7 linked regions of the Homo sapiens genome follow. The protein of the gene in region 3 purifies or fractionates together with the protein of the main gene of each other region. This does not show direct contact. Each region holds a gene or a part of one and is shown on either strand. Other genes may lie near its edges. The genes, in order: RAP1A, GPATCH11, DNAJC8, HDLBP, LRRC47, MRPS31 and ANXA5.

What was found.
Region 1: the proteins of DNAJC8 (region 3) and RAP1A purify together in Homo sapiens (affinity purification with mass spectrometry; 2 studies listed by BioGRID and IntAct, with this or other methods). This does not show direct contact.
Region 2: the proteins of DNAJC8 (region 3) and GPATCH11 purify together in Homo sapiens (affinity purification with mass spectrometry; 2 studies listed by BioGRID and IntAct, with this or other methods). This does not show direct contact.
Region 4: the proteins of DNAJC8 (region 3) and HDLBP purify together in Homo sapiens (affinity purification with mass spectrometry, with the first as the bait; one large-scale study listed by BioGRID). This does not show direct contact.
Region 5: the proteins of DNAJC8 (region 3) and LRRC47 purify together in Homo sapiens (affinity purification with mass spectrometry, with the first as the bait; one large-scale study listed by BioGRID). This does not show direct contact.
Region 6: the proteins of DNAJC8 (region 3) and MRPS31 purify together in Homo sapiens (affinity purification with mass spectrometry, with the first as the bait; one large-scale study listed by BioGRID). This does not show direct contact.
Region 7: the proteins of DNAJC8 (region 3) and ANXA5 purify together in Homo sapiens (affinity purification with mass spectrometry, with the first as the bait; one large-scale study listed by BioGRID). This does not show direct contact.

What each region holds. Positions count from the first base shown.
Region 1 is NC_000001.11:111,699,789-111,703,288, reverse strand, and holds part of RAP1A (ras-related protein Rap-1A precursor), read right to left. Parts: intron 1-3,500. UniProt on the Homo sapiens protein: Counteracts the mitogenic function of Ras, at least partly because it can interact with Ras GAPs and RAF in a competitive manner. Together with ITGB1BP1, regulates KRIT1 localization to microtubules and membranes.
Region 2 is NC_000002.12:37,094,518-37,097,130, reverse strand, and holds part of GPATCH11 (G patch domain-containing protein 11), read right to left. Parts: intron 2,480-2,613; exon of another isoform or gene 2,371-2,479; intron 1,695-2,370; coding exon 1,613-1,694; intron 924-1,612; coding exon 868-923; 3' UTR 1-867.
Region 3 is NC_000001.11:28,223,030-28,226,529, forward strand, and holds part of DNAJC8 (dnaJ homolog subfamily C member 8), read right to left. Parts: intron 1-3,500. UniProt on the Homo sapiens protein: Suppresses polyglutamine (polyQ) aggregation of ATXN3 in neuronal cells.
Region 4 is NC_000002.12:241,309,173-241,312,672, forward strand, and holds part of HDLBP (vigilin), read right to left. Parts: intron 1-3,500. UniProt on the Homo sapiens protein: Appears to play a role in cell sterol metabolism. It may function to protect cells from over-accumulation of cholesterol.
Region 5 is NC_000001.11:3,789,999-3,793,498, reverse strand, and holds part of LRRC47 (leucine-rich repeat-containing protein 47), read left to right. Parts: intron 1-3,500.
Region 6 is NC_000013.11:40,750,691-40,754,190, forward strand, and holds part of MRPS31 (small ribosomal subunit protein mS31), read right to left. Parts: intron 3,403-3,500; coding exon 3,329-3,402; intron 1,780-3,328; exon of another isoform or gene 1,583-1,779; intron 1-1,582.
Region 7 is NC_000004.12:121,679,981-121,683,480, forward strand, and holds part of ANXA5 (annexin A5), read right to left. Parts: intron 3,498-3,500; coding exon 3,384-3,497; intron 1,782-3,383; coding exon 1,691-1,781; intron 829-1,690; coding exon of another isoform or gene 776-828; exon of another isoform or gene 1-775. UniProt on the Homo sapiens protein: This protein is an anticoagulant protein that acts as an indirect inhibitor of the thromboplastin-specific complex, which is involved in the blood coagulation cascade.

The sequences.
Region 1 (3,500 bases), about 83 Mb from region 3:
GTATACTGCAACAATTTAAAACAGCATAATTACAAGTGAGTAACATTTTTTATTACTTGCTATCCTGACAGAAAACAAGACATAACACAAGTTTCTAGCAACTGAGGTGACTAGAAACAATGACAGTAAACTAGAATTAAAAAGGAATTCTTAACCACTTTAATTTGCTTTTGTGTGATTTAGAGCTGTATATAATTTTTTAGAAACAGATCTTTTGATCCTAAATAATTTTATTTGCAAATTTATGACACAACTACTGCCCAAGTGCTAACAATCTGAGGTATAAGCCCAATACTAAACTATGACTTCATCATCCAGAATCAATATCTCTACTGGCAGATTTTATCATCTTTCTTTTTCTATTCCCATGGCATAGCAATATTTTTATCATCTTGACAGTCAATAAACTCTTTATAAGAGCTTGTTAATGGTCAGGGGCAATGACTCACACCTGTAATACCAACACTTTGGAAGGCCAAGGCAGGTGTATCACCCCAGGTCAGGAGTTCAAGACTAGCCTGGCCAACACAGTGAAACCCTGCCTCTACTAAAAATACAACATTAGCCGGGCGTAGTGGTGCACACCTGTAGTCCCAGCTACTTGGTGGAAGAAGAATCACTTGAACCCGGGAGGTGGAGGTTGCAGTGAGCCAACATCGCACCACTGCACTCAAGCCTGGGCAACAAGAGTGAAACTCTGTCTCGGAAAAAAAAAAAAAAGAGCTTGTTCATGTATTTTCATTTTCCCCCTCATTCCAAACCTTTAGAAAAGATGTGAGAATAGTGCAATGACTATCTATCCCCTTTAGTTAAATTTACTAATGGTTAACATTTAGTTACTGAGCTTTAGTCATGCCAAATTAAAATTACTTAATTTTAAACTTCCTTTTATTTGGTGACAATCATTACTTTATGTTGTAACTATGGAGGTTAATATAAGACAAAATCTTCTTTTAGAAAAGTTTTGGTATTATATATATATATTACTTAAAAAGCACATATGGCAGAATATTAAAAATGTGTATGTCTTGGGTCTTTATATTAAATAACTATACAGTTTGGATCTTTTTACCTCTGGATGCATTAAACGTAAAAGATAAATCCACAAAGTTTCTTAAGCTTGTTGTGCCTTGGCTTCCTTGTTCCCCATGACCACTACCTCTATTTTGTCTACTACATCTAAAATAGTTCTGGTTGTTCTACCCTGGCTGATGTACTCTTTCTTGTATTCCAGGGAGTTAGCTATGCTACCACTCAGCCATTTCCCCAGCTTCAAATTCGTCTAAGGTGTGCCACAGGAACATGGCTGAGCTTCCTATACTGCTGCCAGTGTATTTTCTGGGAAAGATGTAAAAACTGGAAGTTTCCTGGATTTTTCATTGATAAAGTTTGCATATTCCAGAATTGCACCACTATGGTAACCAATTAAATTCTGCCACTGTCCAAATGTTTATATAATAAATGAGTTTACTTACAAATGTTAAGTGCTACAAATACTAGCAACACTATTTCTATGATGTTCTCTAGAGATCATGGTCTCTGCTTCTTATTAAATCAAAAGAATAAACATACAGGCAACCTGAGTTCTGAAAATCCAGTTTAAGAAAAGTCCTTACAGAACTGCTGTGGTTGGTGTTCCCTCCTATTGAGAATGCCAACCTCCTTCTTAAGGACATTCTACAAGTTTCATCCATTCACAACAAATATCCACTGACATAGTTGTAGCCCTATGGATATGTTAGTGATCATGAGAGGCAAAAATTTCTGCCCTGGAGGAGTATACATGGAGACAGACAAAAATCAAGTATGCAAGATGGTAATAAATGTTATAGAGAAAAGTAAAGGTTGGGAGTTTATTTTGAGGGTAGGAATATAAAGTTATATTTTAAAAGACTATGCTCAGGGAAGGCCTCACGGGTAACATTTGAGCAACCATGTGAGGGAGGTGAGGGAATAAGCTCTATGGTTATGTGGAGGAAGACTACCCCAAGCACAGGAAAGAGCAAATGCAAAGGCCCCAAAGGGAAACATGTCTAAAGTGTATGAGAAGCTGTAAGGAGGCTGGATTCATTGAAACATTGTTACCTAGTGGGTGAGTATAGCAGTGGGGGCCAGAGAAGGGACAAAGAGAGAGGATTCTCATTTGGACCTTTCAGGGAAATGTAATAAAGACCTGGGCTTTTACTCTGAGTTTAATGCATAATTTAAGCTGAGGAAAACATGATCTGACTTACATTTAAATGGAATTATGATGGTTACTGTGTGGAGAACAATCTGAAGGGGGTGAAGAAGAGAAGCAGGGAGATCAGTTTTGAGGTTATTGAAATAATCCAGCTGAGAGATGACAACTGTTTAGACCAAGATAGTGTCATTAGATTCTAGTGGTGGTAGCTGAGTTCTGGGTAAGTTTTTAAGGTAAAGCCAGTAGGGTTTTCTGAGAGTTTGGATGTACACATAATATAACAAAAAATACAGTCAAGGACGACTCCATGGTTTCAGGCATAACCAACTAAAAAGGTACTATTTACTGAGATGGGAAAGACTGGAAAGACCCAGGTCAGGGAAAGGTTATCAGGAGTTCAGTTTGGACATGTTATATTTGAGATGCTTATAAGACATACAAAAAGAGATATTGAAGAGGCAGTTAGATATAAGAGCTCGAAGTTCAGAAAAGAAATGAGAGATAGGGATATTGTTTGGATGTTTGTCACCTCCAAACCTTATGCTGAAATGTAATCCCCAGTGTTGGAGGTGAGGCCTGTGGGAGGTATTTGGGTCATGGAGGTGGATCCCTCATGAATAGCTTGGTGCTATCCTCACAATTATGAGTTCTCGTGAGATCTGGTTGTTTAAAAGTGTGTGGCATCTCCCGCTCACTCTTTGCTCTTGCCATGTAAAACACCTACTCCTCTTTGCCTTTCACTATGATTGTAAGCTTCCTGAGGTGTTCACCAGAAGCAGATGCTGGAGCTATGCTTGTATAGCCTGCAGAACCATGAGCCAATTAAACCTCTTTTCTTCATAAATTATCCAGCCTCAGGTATTTCTTTACAATAATGCAAACGGCCTAATACAGACAGGGTTACAAAGTTAGTATTTATCAGCATACAGATTGTATTTAAAACCAAGCAACTACAAGATCTCCAAAGCAGTGTTGTTAGGAAAGAGAAGTGCAAGTATTGAACCCTGAGGTCCTCCAACATTAAGAGGTAGGGGAGATAAAGAGGAATTAGGAAAGGAGACTTAGGAGTAACCAATGAGACAGAGGAAATCAGGCAAGTATTGTTTCTTGGAAGCCAAATGAATAAAGGTTTTACATTAGAAAGCAATGATAAACTGAGTCAAAGGCTGCTGAAAAGTCAAGGGAGTTGAGGATATATTCAAGAGAATTATAAATGATGGACCGTGGACCTGAAGCTATATGCAGAGGGGGTTGAAGATATAAGGGATAATAAAAAGATGTTAGGATAAATGGACTACAGGTTGTAACGAAGTTGAAG
Region 2 (2,613 bases), on a different chromosome or scaffold from region 3:
TATTTAAATTTCCTCACAATTAAGTTTCTCTAGCCAAAACTTCCAACAGATCACATATAATGGATATAGACATTGTCATGAAAACTCATGATTTTACCAGAAATTATCACAGTTAAATGGATTAGAATTTAGTAGTACTGGTCGAACATTGCCTCTGACATCAGCCTTATTGAGGGGAATACTTTTCCCCTCCTCTTCATGCTTGGATGGAGGGAAGGGAACTTCTCCTTGCTCCTTCAAAGCAAGAAGTGTAGGAAAAAGCTCTCTGAACCCTCATTCATTCCTTCCCAAGAGAGAACTGTCTTATCCCATGGGTGATACAAGAAGGAACTGAGCATGTGTGGTCCAGCCCCTGGTGGTTTCCCTGACCTTGAAAGCTAACTGGTCTCAGAATGCAAAGATGGGCTCTGCCCCAACAAGGCAGAGACCCGCTGTTCTCTCCAATCAGGGAGAAATATTACAGTCTCTGACTGGAGAAAAAGTCAACCTTCTTCTCTGTATCAGTTTATTCACTGATAAAGTGGATATTTTTCTCTTCCTCTGACTCCCATTTCTTATTTCTCAATTTGTTCCAAAGTGAAGAGGGGAATAAGAAGTTACCTGTTGGTGTCCTTAAACCCCTCACGTATCACAATATAGCAATAAATTGTAACTGTCCATCTCTGTGATACTTGTGTTCTGAAATGCCATTGCATTATTTTTTTCAAGTCAATGAACATTCATATTCTAAAGTACAAAAAGAACAAAACATTATATAAAGTCCCCCTTTCTTTACTGGCATAAAAAATTTGAGATTTCCAACTGCTAAATTGTCTATCCCTAGGAAGTAATAACATTTTTCAAGTTTCCACTTTATTGGGAATAATCTTAGTCATGATCTGCAGAAGTTGGTCCTGGACAATTTGAAGATAGGTCTTCTTTATCTGTAAGTTATGTGAGGGAAATGAAAGATTAATACAACTTCTACAGTAAACTAGAAAATTATTTCAACATAACATGCATTTTTTGATCTGATGTTTTCTACTTATTCTGCTAAACCAGAAAAGATAAAAACAACAATAACCAAAAATGCTTCACTCTCAAGTACAAAGTTCTTAAATACAAGTTAGCAAAGGTAGCTTGGGCAAAGGTGTTAGAAGGAGAAACACTTGGCTCTGTAAGACACCTGGTAAGTGTAAACCATTTCTATCCTTACAATGGAAAAAAAAAGGAATGGATTTCAACATATCTGATTTTTACGGTTTAGGGGCAATATTCTATCTAAGTATATAAAAATTAGCTCTAAAATTTAATATAAATTCTTTCAAATATCTGTAGCCAAAGAAAGAATCTTTAAAAATAAAGCACAAAACATTCATCATTCTCAGGTTATTCTAAAATTGTTTCTTTTGAAACAAAACACTGAAAAATTCACTTCCACACATTCAGTTTCTGAAAAGTTAAATGCAATTTTAATAAAGCCTCAATTATTTCTATATCCACTATTTAAGAAATTGGTCCCATACTGCCATTTGAATGGAATAAGAAATTTCCATTGTCAGTGGGAAATGACTTTAACTAAAAATTGGAGAGCATTCATCTATTTTTAAAAAGCATAAAGTAATTTTCTTACCTTCATAGGCTGTTCCACACCAAATACAATATAGATGTTCTTCTCTTAAATAACTAGTCAATATTTGTAATTTTTCCAGTACCTATAGGATACAAGCACATTATTAATACTTTACATTGAACAGAACCTTGGTTTTCTGGCTCTTAGATCGTGCCGAATTAGCTCAAGGCTGTAAATATTCTGCTATACTCTGGAATAGTTATTAGAAATGTCAAGGACAGAACTGATATATTCGAATGTGTTACAGTTCATTAGCCACCCTGAGATTTCCACAAGTCTGCCAGACACAATGGAGACTGCTTGTTAACATTGAGAAAATAGTTTTTGGGTGGCCTTATTAAAATTGGCATCCTTTAAAGGCTTTTTCTACTTTCAAGGCATTTACCTCCCCCAGATAAGGTGAAGGTGAATATGGCCTCCTTTTGCCATAAAAGTTCTCATCAATGGTCTCCCAATTAAGTGGAATATAGGTTTTTCAAATTGTGAATGTTTTCCACAAAATTATTATACTCAAGTAAGCATACGAGTGTGTTTTCCTTTCTTGAATAATCTCCATTTCCTTTTTTTTTTTTTTTTGTGAGACAGGGTCTCGGTCTATCACCTAGGCTGGAGTGCAGTGGCGTGATCTTGGCTCACCGCAACCTCTGCCTCCCGGGCTCACGTGATCCTCCTACCTCAGCCTCCTGAGTAGCTAGGATTATTGGGTGCCCCACACCTGGCTAATTTTTGTATTTTTAGTAGAGACTAAAATACACTACCATGTTGGCCAGGCTGGTCTTAAACTCCTGACCTCAAGTGATCCACCAGTTTTGGTCTCCCAAAGTGTTTGGATTACAGGTGTGAGCCACCATGCCCGGCCTCCATTTTCTTTTGATTGTGTTTTTTTGTTGTTTATAAGTAGGAGAAAAAAGTACACATTAGAATGACTTGTAGAAGTTTTGCAGGAAATAAGGTATAAATTAAAATAATTTACATTTGTTGCTAATTCATCATCCAAACTG
Region 3 (3,500 bases):
CCTGGCACAGGGTACAAGAACCCAAGCAAGGACATTCCCACAAAGGGCAGCCAAGCATGGGGTATGGAAGCCTGGTATGGTGAGAAGGGTGTCCAAGTAGTAGGGCATCCAGTGTGAAAAGGCAGCCCAACACAAGGTTCAGAGCCCAAAAAATATGAAAAGAGACATGGTATGTGGAGCCAGACCCCGAGTAAGAGGAGAAAGGTGTTCATGGAAGAAGGTGGCTTGACGGAGGATGTCAAAGCCAGAGCAGGGTAGGGAAGATGCCTACTCAGCGGGGAGGATCAGTGTGGGATGCTGGAGCCCATGATCAGTGAAAAGGGCCCCCAGCAGGAAGAGAGCAGGCTCAGAAAGCCAGAGAGCCACATGGAAGGGTGGCCTGACATGGGAGTTCAGAGCCCAGGTGTGGTGAGAAAGGTTTTTGCATAGACATATCCTGGTGCTGGTATCAGAGTACAGCGGGGTGAGGAGAGCATTCAGAGGGAAGGAGTGGCAGTGGGAAGTTAGTTGCATACAGAGAGATCAATTAAGTAAATGTAGATATTAAATTCTGTAGGAGCCAGCGCCAGGTGCACTGGCTGTAATGCTATAATCAATCCCAGTACTTTGGGAGGCCAAGGGAGGATCATTTGAGGCCAAGAGTTTGTGATCAACCTGGGCAACATAGTGAGACCTTGTCTTTACAAAAAAAAAAAAAAGAAAAAAAGAATAATAATAAAGAAAAGATAGTGGGAACCAGGTTTCTAACTATTAGAATAAATCCTGTGGGGTTGGACTGAAAATGGATGTTGGGTGTAAACATATATGTACACACACAAACACACAGACTCCAGGGTCTGTAAGCTGTGATATCCCAACAGCAATGAATCTACCTAGCATTCAAATCTTGATTTCTATATATCATTCTCTGCCAAAAGGAACCAGCGCTCCTTGGTGAAATGGTTAATTCCAGGCTGGGTCAGGAAAAACACAAAAGTGCCTACTAATCAAAGAATGATGAAGACATATGAAAGACACAGGAGCTAGATTGAAAGGTAACCCACTGGCCAAACTTGAGACAATCTGAGCATCAAAATAAACATAAAATTACAACGTACTGAATAAAATAGAAAAACCTAAGTCCATACTGGCAAATAAATGAACTAAAATTTTGATATGGACAGGATATTTACCAAGTTTCAAAGCACCTCCACATAAAATACTTATTCATTACAAAGGGGAAAAATAGTAACCTCATGACACTTCTTTTTATTTTTGAGATGGAGTCTCACTCTGTCGCCCAGGCTGGAGTGCAATGGTGCAATCTCGGCTCACTGCAACCTCTGCCTCCCAGGTTCAAGCAATTCTCCTGCCTCAGCCTCCCAAGTAGCTGGGATTACAGGGGCACTCCATCACACCCGGTTAATTTTTTTATTTTTAGTAGAGACAGGGTTTCACCATGTTAGCCAAGCTGGTCTTGAACTCCTGACCTCAAGTGATCTGCCCGCCTCAGCCTCCCAAAGTGTTGGAATTACAGGTGTGAGCCACCGCGCCTGGCCAGGGAGACCCCATCTTACAAAACAAAACAAACACGCCAGGTGTGGTGGCTCACGCCTGAAATCCCAGCACTTTTTGGGAGGCTGAGGAGGGCGGATCATGAGGTCAGGAGTTCGAGACAAGCCTGGCCAGCTTGGTGAAACCCCATCTCTACTAAAAATACAAAAAATTAGCAGGGCATGGTGGCACGCTCCTGTAATCCCAGCAACCAGGGAGGCTGAGTCAGGAGAATCACTTGAACCCGTGAGGCGGAGGTTGCAGTGAACCGATATTGCGCCACTGCACTCCAGTCTGGGCAGTGGAGTGAGACTCTGTCACGAAACAAACAAACAAACCAAAGAGCCAAACACAGTGGCTCACACCTTGAATCCCAGTATTTTGAAAATCTGAGGTAGGAGGATCAATTGAGCCCAGAGCCCAGGAGTTCGAGGTTGCAGTGAGCTATACAGTGAGCGGAGTGATAGAGAGGCCCTGAAAAACACCTTTTTGGGACAATTAGTAAAACCTGAATGGGGTCTGATGATTATATAGTAACAATGTATCCAGAGAGGCCCTGAGAAAGACTTTTTTGGGACAATTAGTAAAATTTGAATGGGGTCTGATGATTTACATAGTAACAATGTATCAGGGTTCATTTCCTGATTTTGATAGTTTATATTGTGGTTCAGTAAGAGGATATTTGTAGAAAAATCACATTAAAGTATATCAGGGTGATGGACCATCATACTAACAATTTACTCTTAAAGAGTTCAAGGAAAAGTCTTCATATTGTATTTGAAATATTTGTTAATCTGAGATTATTTATAAATGAAAAAATTCTTGAAAAATTACTCTTCAAAAAACAGAAAACAGATGAACCTTGAAAATATCATGCTAAGTGAAATAAGCCAGACACAAAGTAACAAATACGGTACCATTCCACTTACACGGGTTTCCTAGAAGAGGCAAATTCATAGACAAAGTAGAGTAGAGGTTACCAGGGGTCAGGGAGAAAATGAGGAGTTACTGTTTAGTGGATACAGAGTTTCTGGTTGGGGTGACGAAAAATTTCTGAATATGAACAGTGGTGATGGTTACACAACACTGTGAATGTACTTAATGCCACTGAATTGTAAAACTAAAAAAAAATTTAAATGGTAATTTTTTTTTTTTTTTTTGAGACAGTCTCGTTCTGTCGCCCAGGCTGGAGTACAGTAGCACAATCTCGGCTCACTGCAACCTCCGCCTCCTGGGTTTAAGTGATTCTTGGGCCTTAGCCTCCCAAGTAGCTGAGATTACAGGCATGCACCACCATGCCCAGCAATGTTTGTATTATTTTTGTGGAGATGGGGTTTCGCCATGTTGGCCAGGCTGGTCTCAAACTCCTGGCCTAAAGTGATCCTCCCACCTTGGCCTCCCAAAGTGCTGAGATTACAGGCGTGAGCCACCACACCTGGCCAAAATGGCAAATTTTATGTTATATATATTTTTCCACAATAAAAAAAAGTGAGGGGAGTTTTTTTCTAAGTGCCCAATAAGTGTTGTTTCTATTATTTAACAGATACAAAAATATTCACTTCAAAATTATTTGTAAATGTGAACAATTAGAAAGTAGTTTAGGGAGTCTCTCTGAACCTATTCTGGTTCAGAGGGCCGCCTGTTAAAAAAACTTTTTAAAGATCTGGGTGTGGTGGCTCACGTCTGTAATCACGGCACTTTGAGAGGCCGAGGCAGGCAGATCACAAGGTCAGGAGTTTGAGAAAAGCCTGGCCAATATGGTGAAACCCATCTCTACAAAAAATACAAAAATTAGCCAGGCGTGGTGGCACATGCCTGTAGTCCCAGCTACTCGGGAGGCTGAGGCAGAAGAATCGCTTGAACCCGGGAGGCAGAGGTTGCGGTGAGCCGAGATTGCGCCACTGCACTCCAGCCTGGGCGACAGAGACTCCATCTCAAAAAAAAAAATTTTAGAAAGAAATAAACTA
Region 4 (3,500 bases), on a different chromosome or scaffold from region 3:
TCCCCTCGATACTTTATTTTCCTCCTTTCTTCTTGTCCACATTGGACATACTGCATATCTGCTGGTCTGCTGACTGCCTGACACCGCTTACCAAAACGTGACCTCCGTGAAAGTGCAGGAGAACACACTTGCATTTTCCTTACTGTGTCCCACTTCCTGGAACAGTGTCTCCAGCACGAGCCGTTGTCAGATCAATACATTTACACTACTTCGTGAAGCACCACTAAAATGATAGTAAACGATTTTTTCTTTTTTTAAGATACAAATCACGAAAGCAAAGAATAAGAATAGAGATAAGAACATTAAAATACTGGAGGCTAGAAACTGGAAACAGACCTAAAAGGGCTGAATCCTGTATCGGCAATGGGGAAGGCCAACTGGCAATATGACTGGAAGCCAGGAGACCTGAATTAAAAACAGAGTTGGCTGATAGGTTTAAAAGGCACGAAGATCCCTAAGATGCACCCCACAACTCTGCACAGCCACACAGAGCCAACCTGCACAGTCCCTCTCCTATCCTGGCAAAAAGGTATCGCTTTTCTGTCTGCAAAGGGAAGTAGAATCTTTGGACTGGGGACACCAGTTACAGAGGAGGGAAACAATTCTGAAAAGAGGGAAGTAAGCTCTTTTATGGTTACTGCTGTGCTCCCAGGCCTCTCTCCTCACTTGGCCACTCAGCCAGGCAAAGGGCTACAAGATATTTCTCTGGGGAATCTGAAGAAACCCAAAGAAGCTGACAAGGGTGCTGTAAGGAAATGGCCCAGCCAGGTGCCTCTGCAGTGAAAGCCACAGTCAGCCACAGACACAGGCTCAGAGGCCCTCTGACTCACGAGCAGGCACAAGAACATCACTGCATAGCCCAGAAAAGGCTGACAAAAGCCAAAAACCCACAACAAACCAGAGCAGCCTCAATAGTGACTTAAGGAAAAAGAAAACAGGGAAAAATAAAACCTCATCAATATCTTCCAACAGTTAACAGGAGATACCACATTCATGAAACAAAAAATAGGTTATAAAATAGGAATAGAGGGAACAAGAAAAAGCTCTTAGAAATGAGAAAAACCTTGGTAGAAGGGCTGGAAGACAAACTTGAGAATAACTTCCAGAAAGAAAATGAAAAACCAAAGGGTACAAAACATCAATTAGACAGGAGGAATGTGGTTTTCTTTTATGAGATATATTGTACAGCACGGTGAATATAGTAAATAATAATGTCGATTTCAAAAGTGCTGACAGTAATCTCATATGCTTTCACCACAAAAAACTTAAAGTATTTGAAGTGATGAATTATGTTAACTTGATTTTATTATTTATTGTATCCATAAATCGTAACATCACTTTGTACCCCCTAAATATGTACAAGTATAATTTGTCAATTTACAATTTAAAAGATAAAAACAAAAACAAAAATTTTAGAGGGGGGAAAAAGAAACCTTAAGAAAATTATGAGTGCCAATCCAGAAAGTCCAAGAGTAGAATTCTAGAGAGAGAGAGAGAAAGCAAATAGGAAGAAATCAAAGCAATAAATCAAAAAAATGCCCAGCGTTGAAGAACATGAGTTGCAAATAAACAGGACCAAAGAGTAGGCAAGACGATGGATGAAAACAGTCTCCAAGGGACATCACTGTTCTGGGAGTTCTGAATTTCACAGAAAGAAAAGCCTCTGAGGCCAGATGCAAAGCCTTCACTCCCAGCACTTCGGGAGTCTGAGGCAGGAGAATCACTTGAGGCCAGGAGTTCAAGATCAGCCTGGGCAACATAGAGAGCTCATGTCTACAAAAAGTTTTTAAAATTATCCAGGTGTGGCGGTGCATGCCTGTAGTCCCAGGTACTTGGGAGGCCGAGGCAGGAGCATCACTCAAGCCCAGGAGATTGCAGCTGCAGTGAGCTATGACAGCGCCACCGCACTACAGCCTGAGCAACAGAGCAAGACGCTGTGTCTCAAAAAAAAACAAAAGAAAGAAAGAAGAAAAAAAAGAAACAAAAACCTTCAGGTTTCATGGAGGAAAACATAGTCACACACAAAGGCTCTAAAAATGTTACGTATCAATAAAAGAGAATCAGAACGGCTTAAGACTTCAACAACACTGGAAACTTAGAGACCGCGGAGCAAAATGATGTCCAAATTCCTACTCAGGATAAGAGCAGAACGAGGCACTTTCGTACATACAAATTCTGAAAACTTCATCTGCCATGCACTTCTCAGGCAACTAGTGAAGGATGTGCTCCATCGAAGTGAGACAGTCAAATCAAGAGAATGACATAGGTTCCAGAAAAGTGAGGCTCCAACACAAGAGGGAGTGAGGAGAGTTACAGGAAGATTTCAGGCACAGACAAGCCTGCAGCAGATTGGAGGCGCTGGGAGAGATTTATTCAAGATAAAATGATAGGAATACTAATTTTCTTCAAAAGAAAACGGACAATTTCTTGAAAGATTTAGATAATTGCTTCAGAATTTGGGGTTGAATTGTAGTGACAAAATATAGAAAACTGAGCAAGCAGCAAGCAAACAAAAACAAATAAGACTTGTAATAACCCAGGAAAACAAAAAGTTATCCAGAAAAGTGAAAACAATCCTATTATACCACTTCGTCCAGCTGTAAATGGCAATATGTAGTCATAATATAAACAATCAATACTGAACTAACCAAATTAAGGATATATCACTTTGGGCAGCCATGGATCCGTTTGCACTGAGAAGGCAGAGGGTGAAAGAAAGCTAGGAACTTCCTACCTATTCTCAGTGTCAAGCGAAGAGACATCACATGAAACAGGGGTAGGAGACACAAATACAGACGTCAAGCAAATATGCTCTTTAGAGTTGGAGGCAAAGATCAAGGAAATCTACTAAGGCTGAAGTAGATACTCTGCAGGGGAGGAAACATGATTAGGGGAAGGATGTTGGCACTTCTTTCTTACAAGCCTTTCTAGGATTATCTGACTCTACAAATGACATGAAGCTGTAACCTTGATTTGAAATAAGATTAATATGAATGCTAATAAAAAGTAGTAAGGGAGAGTATGTAGTCAATGTATTCTTACCAAATTAACAACAAGTATCAACAAGATGACTAACACAACCACATGATGTCCAGACACGTCTCAGAACAAATGTCTAGCTCATCTTCAACGGTATTCGAGGAACTTCAGTGTGCTTGGTAAAACAATAGCCTACTAGGGATTTCACTTCTAAAATGTCTCTGACTTTAGAAATACCAAAAAATAACATGTAACCAAGTTTTAAAATATTATACACATGAAAAAAGGTTCTTTTCATTATTTTCTTGGTTTCCAGATGTTGAACGTTGTGGTGCTTTTACAATTGAAGAGAAAAAGCATTCTGACACATTATACTGGTTGGGGTTCTCTGCTTTTCTACTTGGTCAAAAACCTTTACACGCATTTTGGACTTTGTGTCATCATAACTTGGCAATTGGGAAAGCCGCATGATATGCTTCTTTCAGAACTTGGTTACTTCTTACCAAAAGAGGGAAAAGCTT
Region 5 (3,500 bases), about 24 Mb from region 3:
TACAAAGGCAGTTGAGTTTTACGGAAGGAGTATTATCATTTAAATTACAAATGTCTCCCAAAGTTAGCTTGGCCCAAGCCCAGGAATAATTAAAGGTAGTTTGAAGGGCCAGGCGCGGTGGCTCCTGCCTGTAATCCCAGCAGTTTGGGAGGCTGAGGCAGGCGGATCACCTGAGGTCGGGAGTTCTAAACCAGCCTGACCAACATGGAGAAACCCATCTCTAGCTGGGCATGGTGGCACATGCCTGTAATCCTAGCTACTCAGGAAGCCAAGGCAGGAGAATCGCTTAAACCCGGGAGGCGGAGGTTGCAATGAGCCAAGATGATACCATTGCACTCCAGCCTGGGCAACAAGAGCAAAACTCCATTTAAAAAAAAAAAAAGGTAGTTGGAAGGCCAAAGATGGGGATTGGTTAGATCAGATCTCTTTCACCACCATAATTTTCTCACTGTTACAGTTTTTGCAAAGGTGGTTTCATTGGCATTTCCTGGAAGAGGCGAGTTCACTGGCATTTTCCTTGGTCCTCAGGGCTGTAGGCATCCCTCTAGGACTAAGGTGTGATGTTGGATACAGCATGGTCTACTCCCACCTTCCCACCTGACAGATACTTTTGGTTTTCCAGAGTGTTGATGTACTAGGCATGTATCTTAACATTGTGCCTTACATCATGTAAGTGTCCAGTCAGTTGCAATATTTCTCTTCAAATTCATAGATGTCTTTCAGTATTCAAGTTCTTAAAAGTGTTGTGGGCCAGGCCCACGCTTGTTATCCCAGCACTTTAGGAGGCCAAGGCGGGCGAATCACGAGGTCAAGAGATCGAGACCATCCTGGCCAACATGGTGAAACCCCGTTTCTACTAAAAATACAAAAATTAGCTGGGTGTGGTGGTGCATGCCTGTAGTCCCAGCTACTCGGGAGGCCGAGGCAGGAGAATCGCTTGAACCCGGGAGGCAGAGGTTGCAGTGAACCGAGATTGCACCACTGCACTCCAGCCTGGGTGAGAAAGTGAGACTGCGTCTCAAAAAAAAAAAAAAGTGTGCGTCCAGCTCTCTGTAGCACCTGCCTGGTAAAGCATTCCTCTTTATGGTGCCCAAAACAATGTCATTCAAGTCAAAGAGTGTGTCTTGTTTTCTAAATCCCAAAAGAGGTGGCCAAGTTCCCTTTCCCCTGGGCCATTCTGTTCGTAAATTTTAGGCGTCCAGTGGCTCTCTATCAGGAGACCTGTTTCTTGGAGGGTCATGCAAGAGCTATTGGAATCCCTTGTTGCACTCAGATGTCCTTTTGGGTACCTTTCTGAGGAATGGCTACCAGAACTATGCCCAGCAATGTAGCTACGCACATTGGAATTTCGCACACAAAGGCAAATGCATTTGATGTCCTTCCTGGTGCTGTGGGGAGATGGGGAGTGTAGAAAACCAGAAAACTGAGCTCAGAAACAGAAGGCAGGCTGGGCACAGTGGTTCATGCCTGGCATCCCAGCCCTTCAGGAGGCTGAGGCGGGCGGATCACTTGAGCCCAGGAGTTTGAGACCAGCCTGGGCAACATGGTGAAAACCTGTCTCTATAAAAAATACAAAAATTAGCTGGGTGTGGTGGTGTGCACCTGTAGTCCCAGCTACTCAGGAGGCTGAGGTGGGGTGAACGCTTAAACCTGGGAGGTTGAGGCTGCAGTGAGCCATGATCACACCACTGCACTCCAGCCTGGGCAACAGAGCTAGACCCTGTCTTAAAGAAAGGAGAGAGAGGCCGGGTGCGGTGGCTCATGCCTATTATCCCAGCACTTTGGGAGGCTGAGGCGGGCGGATCACCTGAGGTTGGGAGTTGAAGACCAGCCTGACCAACATGGAGAAACCCCGTCTCTACTAAAAATACAAAATTAGCCGGGCGTGGTGGCGCATGCCTGTAATCCCAGCTACTCGGGAAGCTGAGGCAGGAGAATTGCTTGAACCTGGGAGGCGGAGGTTTCGGTGAGCCAAGATGGTGCTGTTGCACTCCAGTCTGGGCAATAAGAGTGAAACTTCGTCTCAAGAAAAAAGGAGAGAAAGAAGGGGGAGGAAAGGAAAAAAAACAGAAGGCACGGGCTCCAGCCCTGTCTCTCTGTGGCTGCGTGCCGTTGGGTCTTGAAGGCTCTTTGCTCCTCTGTAGGAAGACTGGGAGGGTAACGCAGTACACGAAGAGGGAAAGAGATGGGGGAGGTAGTGCTGGTCATTGTGGCTGCTTGACTCCGAAACCACGAGGCTTAAAGCAGCAGCGGCTCTGCGCTCTGGGCTGGCTCCGCCAGACAGTGGACAGTGAACAGTGGACAGTGCTGCAGCTCTTGCTGCTGGTCGCTCGCGTGGCTGTGCTCAGCTGGCGTGGGCTCAGGGCTGGGCTGCCGGGGTGGGTGGGCTTCTCCGTGTGTCGTCTCGGGGCCTCTCCCTCCCCTTCTTTCACAGGGCTCAGGGCTCCTCAGTACAAAAGCAGCAGCTGCCAGCCCTTCTTCAGGCATCAACCTGGAACATGCTTCCTGCCACTTTCCTGCGTTCCGTGGGTTAACTAAGTGCGAGCCCAGTTCCGGTTCTTTGGGAGGACTGGCTCTTTAGGGGCCGCCAAAATAACAGCACAGAGCTTCTGCCTGTCCTTTCCCTCCCCAGAGGGGCGAGACTGCAAATGGAAGCAGCTCGGCCTGGCTCCTAGTGCCCATCCCCACAGCCATTCCCCAGGGAGCACCCCCAAGCCTGGGCTGGGACCTGCAGTGCAAAGGCCCTGACCCTCTTTCCTCCCAGCCACTGGGGACGAGGCCTCTGCTGTCCTATGGCCTCAGCAGTAGCTCTGCCTGCGTGGGAGCCTGGCTTCCCCAGTGTCCTGGCCTCAGAGCCACGTGGCTTGCTGAGACCTGAGAGCACCCGGCCGGCCCTCCCTGGCTGCTTCCCGCTGCTGTGGCCCGTGGGGCTCAGCTGGCAGTGCTGTGGTGAGCCGAGGATGGGGGCACGTCACACCTCTCCTGACTGCATTGTAAGTGGCCATCACGCAGGCGTGTGGTGTCCGTGTGGGAATGAGGGATGGATGGGACAGATGTTACCTGAACAGCTGATGTGGGCAGGACGGTGCCTTAGTAAAGACATCCTTTCAGGCCCTGGGCCACTCCCCTCCCAAGGCCAAGCTGCACAGGGGAGTTCAGCCTCAATGTGAACCCTCCTGAAGCCAAAGGCTCTCCCCCAGCTTCCGAGTTTCTCAGTTGCTGCCGGAGGGAGTGGGGCTCACTCAGGGGCTGGCGCTCCTTATTGGGTTGGTTTATGTCAGCCTGTCACCACCATGAAGTTAGGATCCTTCCCCGGCAGCAGGTCCCCTGCAAAAGCCATGGGCCCGGAAGGCAGCCGGTATGCCAGGCCAGAGTCAGGACCCACGTTGCTGCCGTCAGCTTAGCCACTGCGAGGGTTGTGTTTCCTGCAGTAGAGTGTCAGCTCCGGGTGACAGGTGACGGCATTTCATCCCATCAGGTGTCAGGAGGACCCCTAGCCA
Region 6 (3,500 bases), on a different chromosome or scaffold from region 3:
ATAGTTTGGTAATCTACTTTTTTCACTGAATGCTTGCATTAGTATCCCATTTTATATATATATATATATATATATATATATATTACATATATATGTATCACAATCCCTTACTATTCAATATTTTGATCATTTATATATTTTCTCTTTTAAATACTATAGTGACAAATATCCTTGTAGTTACACTTTAGCGCGTATCTGTAATATTTCCTTAGAACAAATTCCTAGGAACAGTTTCCGGGTTAGAGGCATAGATTGCATATGACCTATCCTCCAGCTTACCTCTTTACCCACTTTTGCCAAGCCCCCACTAAAGCATATCAACAAATAGCTCAATTACTCTTCTACCTGGGTAAGCCTTATTTTATCTATTTTGCTTTTTCTGAATCTATTTCTATGAGCCTTTATGTGCAGAAATGTATCTAGCCACACACTGACTGCTAGATATTTGGCCTAGATCATCTGATACTGGGAAACAATCAGTTGTTAGCCTTAACTAGCCACATTTACAGAGCAATCACATCAAAAATAACTTAATTGTCTCAGTTATCTTTTACTTGGTGGTCACTGACCCACCTATGTCTTTTCCATCATCATTAGGATCATCACTATATTTTTACACTTGCTAATATTTGTAAGCATTTGTTAAATATGTACTATGTTCCAGGCACTGTGCCTGACACTTTTCTCATATTACCTCACTTAATCTTTGAGATGTATGTAGTAGCCCTCATTTTATAGGTGGGGAAAAGTTAGTGTGGCAGAATCTGAATTTGAATCCAGTTCTACACAACACCAACACTCTTTCTGTTAAGCTATACTGCCTGTCGACTCTAGGATAACCAGTAGGGCCTATGAGTATATCCTTTGTAGCAGTGGTAAGAACTTAGTGGGGAACAAGACATGGGAATCATGGAACAGAATAACTCATTCAATCAGTCAATAAAAAAATTACTGAATGCCAACTGTATTTCCAGCATTATTTCAGGTGGTGGGAAAACAACAGTGAACAATTGCTAAATTTACGTTTCCACATTTTGCTATTCTTGTATTTAATTGGGAACAAAAACCATTCTTTAGACTCATGCAAGTATAGCATATTTAAACAGTACCTTCATTAAATTATTAAAGTTGTGTGCTATTTTCCTAACTAGAGTATAATAATTTGATACTGTTTTATAAAATATATAAAACTTCAATGCTTCCTTGCCAACTAACTTCAGTTTTAGAAATAAGATTTTTTTATTTTAAAAAGTAAGATGGTTCCTTCAAGACTCTCAAGAATCTTCAAGTGCCTCTTTTGGCTGGACAACAGCAGCTGCCCTGACAACCAATTTCTTTCTTTCTTTTTTTTTTTGAGACAGTTTTGCTCGTCACTTAGGCTGGAGTGTAATGGTACAATCTTGGCTCACTGCAACCTCCGCCTCCTGGGTGCAAGTGATTCTCCTGCCTCAACCTTCCGAGTAGCTGGGATTACAGGCACCCGCCACCATGCCCAGCTAATTTTTGTATTTTTGGTAGAGACAGGGTTTCACCATGTTGGCCAGGCTGGTCTCAAACTCCTGACCTCAAGTGATCCACCCACCTCAGCCTCCGAAAGTGCTGGGATTACAGGCATGAGCCACCGTGCCCGGCCAAGAAATTCCTTTCTGATGCACGCTTAACCATTTGAGCAGGGAAGAGGCGATTCCTTGTCCCTACGCATTTTGCACTTCCTTCTCATCATACACAAGAGAATGCAGTTTTTGTAATATAAGAAGGGGGTTGTTCTTTTAGCTTCACCTTCAATTCAAATGAACAAACACTGAATTAACTTCTTTCCTCTACAGATATATATTTTACAGTACAGTTTGTTCAAAAAAGAATTTAAGATTTAAGACACCTAGTTCCTATGATCTGTAAGCCACATGAGTAGGTGCTACATGAATGAGATATAGCCCCTAATAGTCTATTAAATAGAGGGAAAATCAAAAGTTCGTATAAGTAACTGTAGAAAGATTAAATGAGCCTTTGGAGGCCCGCCTAGGAACTTATCTATCATATACAACATTCTTTTTTTTTTTCCCCTTCGAGATGGAGTCTCACTTTGATTCTTAGGATGGAGTGTTATAGCACAATCATAGCTCACAGCAGCCTCAAATTCTGGGCTCCAGTGATCCTGCCACTTCAACTTCCCAAGTCACTAGGATTACAGGCATGCACCACCATGCCTGGATAATTTTTTTCTATTTTTTAGAGAAAGGGGCTATGTTGCCCAGGCTGGTCTTGAACTCCTAGTCGCAAGCCATCATGTTGTCTCAGCCTCCCAAGTCCACATACAACATTGTTTCTACCAATATCCAAAAAACTAACTTATTTTCTTTAGAAATGCTCATCACTTATACACTAGAGACCATTTGTATTAAGTTTCTTCATTTATTTTACTAGTAAACTAAATTTAATGTCAAGCAAGAGGACACTCTTATTTCTCTTTTAGACTTAAAATGGCAAATTTCTTACCCAAAGAAAACACTACAAGTCTGTTAAATATATTCCTTGAATGTTCTTCCCATCTCCTAAACAATCACTAAGTCACTTCAGTAAGTTATTTTGTAAATGCTGTCTCCTCTTCTAAGCTGCCTAAGGGCAGGAACCAGTATATCTTTATGTAATAGCATAGAGATACACTGTAAATGGTAGTTGATTATTATTGTTCTAACTCAAATTAGTAGCTAATCTGGACCTCTGGATTCGGTAATCGGTAGTACTTACCTCCCGCTGTCTCACAGAATGCAACATTTCAAGGGGGAAGCCTGACCGAAACTAGCAATGTTGACAACTGTAGTAACCCCCACCAGGTTACTTAAGAGTGTATGTGTGTTGCTTGGATCCTGAAGGCTGAGCAGGGAGCCAAGGCCATGGTGCCTAGCTGAGGAGCAGGTGTCCCTGAGAACCCAAACATCCCAGGGCATACCTGGGAACATATCAGGTAACAGTCATCGCGCACACAGAGTAGGCAAACAAAACATTAGCTGAAAGGCTGCTTAGAGATGGGAGGCAGGGTGACTCTAGAGCTGCTCAGGAATGTCCAGTATGTAATGTAAGTTCTAGTAAACTCATCTATTCATCAAGCTGGACTTGCCCAAATTATTCTTTGGTCTCTTGACGCCTTCCCAGTTTAGGCGGACATTACAGTCCCAAGTTTTCCTTGTAACAACCGCCACATTCATAAGCAGGATCCAGGCCAATGACAGAATGGAATATTAAAATATCCAAACTATTAGAACACTAAGGACATCCTGGAACGATGGAATGTTTCTCCACCTGAGAAAGAGTGTTATTCTTAACAAACCTGTTTCAGGTGCTTCTTTAGTAACTGCCATCATGTCAAAAATATTAAGTCTTTTCCCTGTGAATATATTTTTCCTAAGTCCAAAAAAAGAAAATAACATTTTAATGAATATATTTTAAACTGTCAACAAAAACTATGAGAAAATATCTTAAGTGAAATATTCTATGTAGAA
Region 7 (3,500 bases), on a different chromosome or scaffold from region 3:
AGAACTTATTCATCCTGCCTAACTAAAATCGTGTATGCTTTGACCAATATTTCACCAGTCCCTTCTCCCATTCACCCCACCCCTACACCCTAGCAAACACTGTTTTACTATCTGTTTCTATGAGTTCAATTTTTTTAGATTCAACATAAGAAGTGAGATCATGCATAGCTTATGCCTTGTGCCTAGCTTATTTCACTTTGCATTATGTCCTCCACGTTTATCCATGATGTTGAAATGACAGGATTTCCCCTCTTTAAGACTGAACAGTACTCCTGTGTGTGTGTGTCTGTGTTTGTGTGTGTGTGTGTACGTATTCTTTATCTATTCATCTGTCAATGGACACTTTGTAAACCCACCTAGTCTTGAAACTCTGCTGCATGTGTGATTTGTACCATGAAGCCTCCCTAACATCCAAAGCTATGATGACCTCTCTCTTCTGAATGCATTATTGCATTTAACATCATTGGTATTTTACTTTAGTTTGAATTTCATTATCCTTTAAATATTGCAGTCATTCTGTCATGTCACCCACTGAGGAGACTGCACACAAACTGCTTGAGGACAGGAGCTGTGTTATGCACACCTTTTGTCACTCATGACAGCCTGTTAACACACTGCCAGACACATAGCCAGTGCTCAATTACACGGCTGAGTAGGACAGACCACACAGTTATTACCCCCTTTGAGCACACCATTTGTAATCCAGTAGCACAAAGGCTCTCATCAACGTCAACATCCCCAGAAAGAGATCTTTGAATAGTACATCAAATAAAGTTCAAAGTTGAGATACATGTATCACTTCTGCCTTAGCGGTTGGGAACTTACTGCCTATAAAAAGAGAAGCAGGAAAGAGAGATTCAGCCCTTTAGAAAGGTAATTATACAGTTGCTCTAAACAATTTTTTGCTGTTTTGACTTGCTGGGTTAACAAAGCCATTTCTAAGATTAACAAACTAATGGCAAGATACAGCCCCTAGCAAAAGACACTAGGCTTGGAGTCTGTTGACTGAGCTGAGAAACTGGATAGTCTGACCCTCCTCAGTCAGGCAGGAGAAAGAGTTGGCTACAAGAAATCTGGTAAGAAAAGGACTCTCTACCTCTACTTTTTACTTCATTTTCTTGATTCTATTCATGAGACATATTTTAGGCCGAAATGCAGATTTCTGTTCATATAAAAGACACACTAAAAAGAAAAATCAAAATGCAGAATATTTTATTCAAGCACTGCCATTAGCTAAGACAACATACATTTACTCAAATGTACTTTATCAACTCTGATGTGGGAAAGGGTTTAGGTTTCTCTTCCAAAGTTCCAAAAGTACTTTTTATATAACTCCTAAATTTTGCTAGCATAAAGCTAAATATTTTTAAAGGAGGAAAAACCATTTTTACCTTAATGTTAACATAAAGACAACCTGTATATCCCTACACTAATTGCAAATCCTATGCAAAAGTAAACTCCATCTTCAGCAGTAGCTTCTTATAAAATATGAAAATAGTAGAGGATAACAAGGCAGTCTTTTCCTTACTGAAGGAGAAAAATAGCTTGAATTGCAGGTCATTCATTCATTCATTCATTCATCCATCATTTACTGCGTGCCTCCCATACCTACAAAGGACTGCATTCAAATCACAGAAATGAAGGAAGTGATAGTGGAGGTGAAGTCAAAATATAACTCACAAACATTTACCTTCTTCATAAACTTGTTTGATGGCTCTCAGTTCTTCAGGTGTCCTTGAAGCAATAATTTCTGTCAGTACTTTTTCATTTGTTCCAGCTCCCTGTTTGGAGATTTTAATAGAGAAAACATGTCAATAAGATTAAAAAGAAAGTTATTAAAAGAAAGTTATAGATGTTACCCAAATTGCATAGTTATATAAATATTATCCAGTATAACATGGATTTCTTTGTATATGAGTTCTATTAGTTATAGAAATAACAAGTTTTAAATGATTTTCTCTCCAAAGACCATTTTATTCTTTTTGCCTAATGGAAAACAATGTTTATCATGTGTATGTGTGTATATATGTGTACGTATACATAACCAGTTACATAAATTTGTAACTTTTAATTTGATCAGTTAATTCTAGCTTAAAAGTAAAACATTTTCATGAAACATGAAGTAATTTTTTAAAAACCGAAAGAGTAAAAATGAAAACTTCACGTAAATGTACATGGAAGAGCACTGATACTTAATAAGCACCTCAAAAGATAAACCCCTGACCCCCAAGTTAAGTGCTGTGCAGTCACAGGAAAATTCTACATCAAAGGTAACAATAAATATAGCAATACTTAATTATTAGGAATTAGAACAGTATAAAGGAATTGGGACTTGCTTTCTGGATTTTTGAAAAATCATTTTAGTTGGCTTTCCTTTTTCTGCTTTTAAAAATCACATCTATATGATTAAACTAAGAGATGCAACGATATAGCTGGACTTAATTTTTTTTAAAAGATAGTATATTGAAGCCTTATTTTCTTTATATTTCTATTTTTTGCCAAAAATCAAGCACTGAAAAACCTAGAGTTCATTCTCTGGCAGAATTTCAACTACTGCTGACATTTCAGAAGTACTTAGCAAAAAAAGTGCTTTTCTCAATAACCTCAGATTTTTGTTTATTCCAAAAGAATCACCATAGGAAAATGAAGAGACTGAGCACAAACCAGCTCCTATCAGGATGACCCTTCTCCTCTCTCCACTCCATCAGTAAGAATCCCTGAGAAACATTATTTCCTTGTTAAATCTCAATGTGCCCATTCAAAATCTAACAGCTAACAACTGAACTACTTCCTGTCCCATGAGCCTAAACAAATGTGTCAATGCCTTCATATTTATACAACATTCCAAACACCAGTCAAGGGAATACATATTTAATTTTTGCTGCAACTGAAATTATAGCAAGTTTACCAGCTACTTCATTTTAGTGTTTAGAGGGGCAGGAAAGAAGGAAAGAGTATGAGAAAATATTTATCTTGAAAATTCTCTCTGAAGCTTTACCTTTTAACCTAAAATGATGAGCAATATTATGGTTCCCTAATCAGGCAATTTTCTACTGAAAAAGATAAAATAGCTCATCTGTAATATTTTTTAAACATCCTCAAAATCAGAAGACAGGCATGAAAATAAAATACAAAAAGCTATAAAAATATGAAAATTTTAAACAGCCCAGTATTATTGAGTTTAAATCTACAAAAAGATGAAATGACACACGTGTAATTTTCTCCCTCCTTTACTGCTTATTGCCTCCCAGTTTTGTCTGCCAAGCAACTCTCACTGAAATAATCAGATAAAATTTTTTAAATATAACAAATAAGAGGAAGTAATTACCAAAACAAAATAATACTATCTATGCAAGAATGTTCCTTTCACTCATCCTTTTTACCTTCAAGGCATGTTTCAGTTCATAAGCATCATAAAGCCGAGAGGGTTTCATCAGAGCCACAATTAATTTTTCAAATTTTCCAGTTAGTTCTGATTTCAGGTCATCCAGAAGATCCTA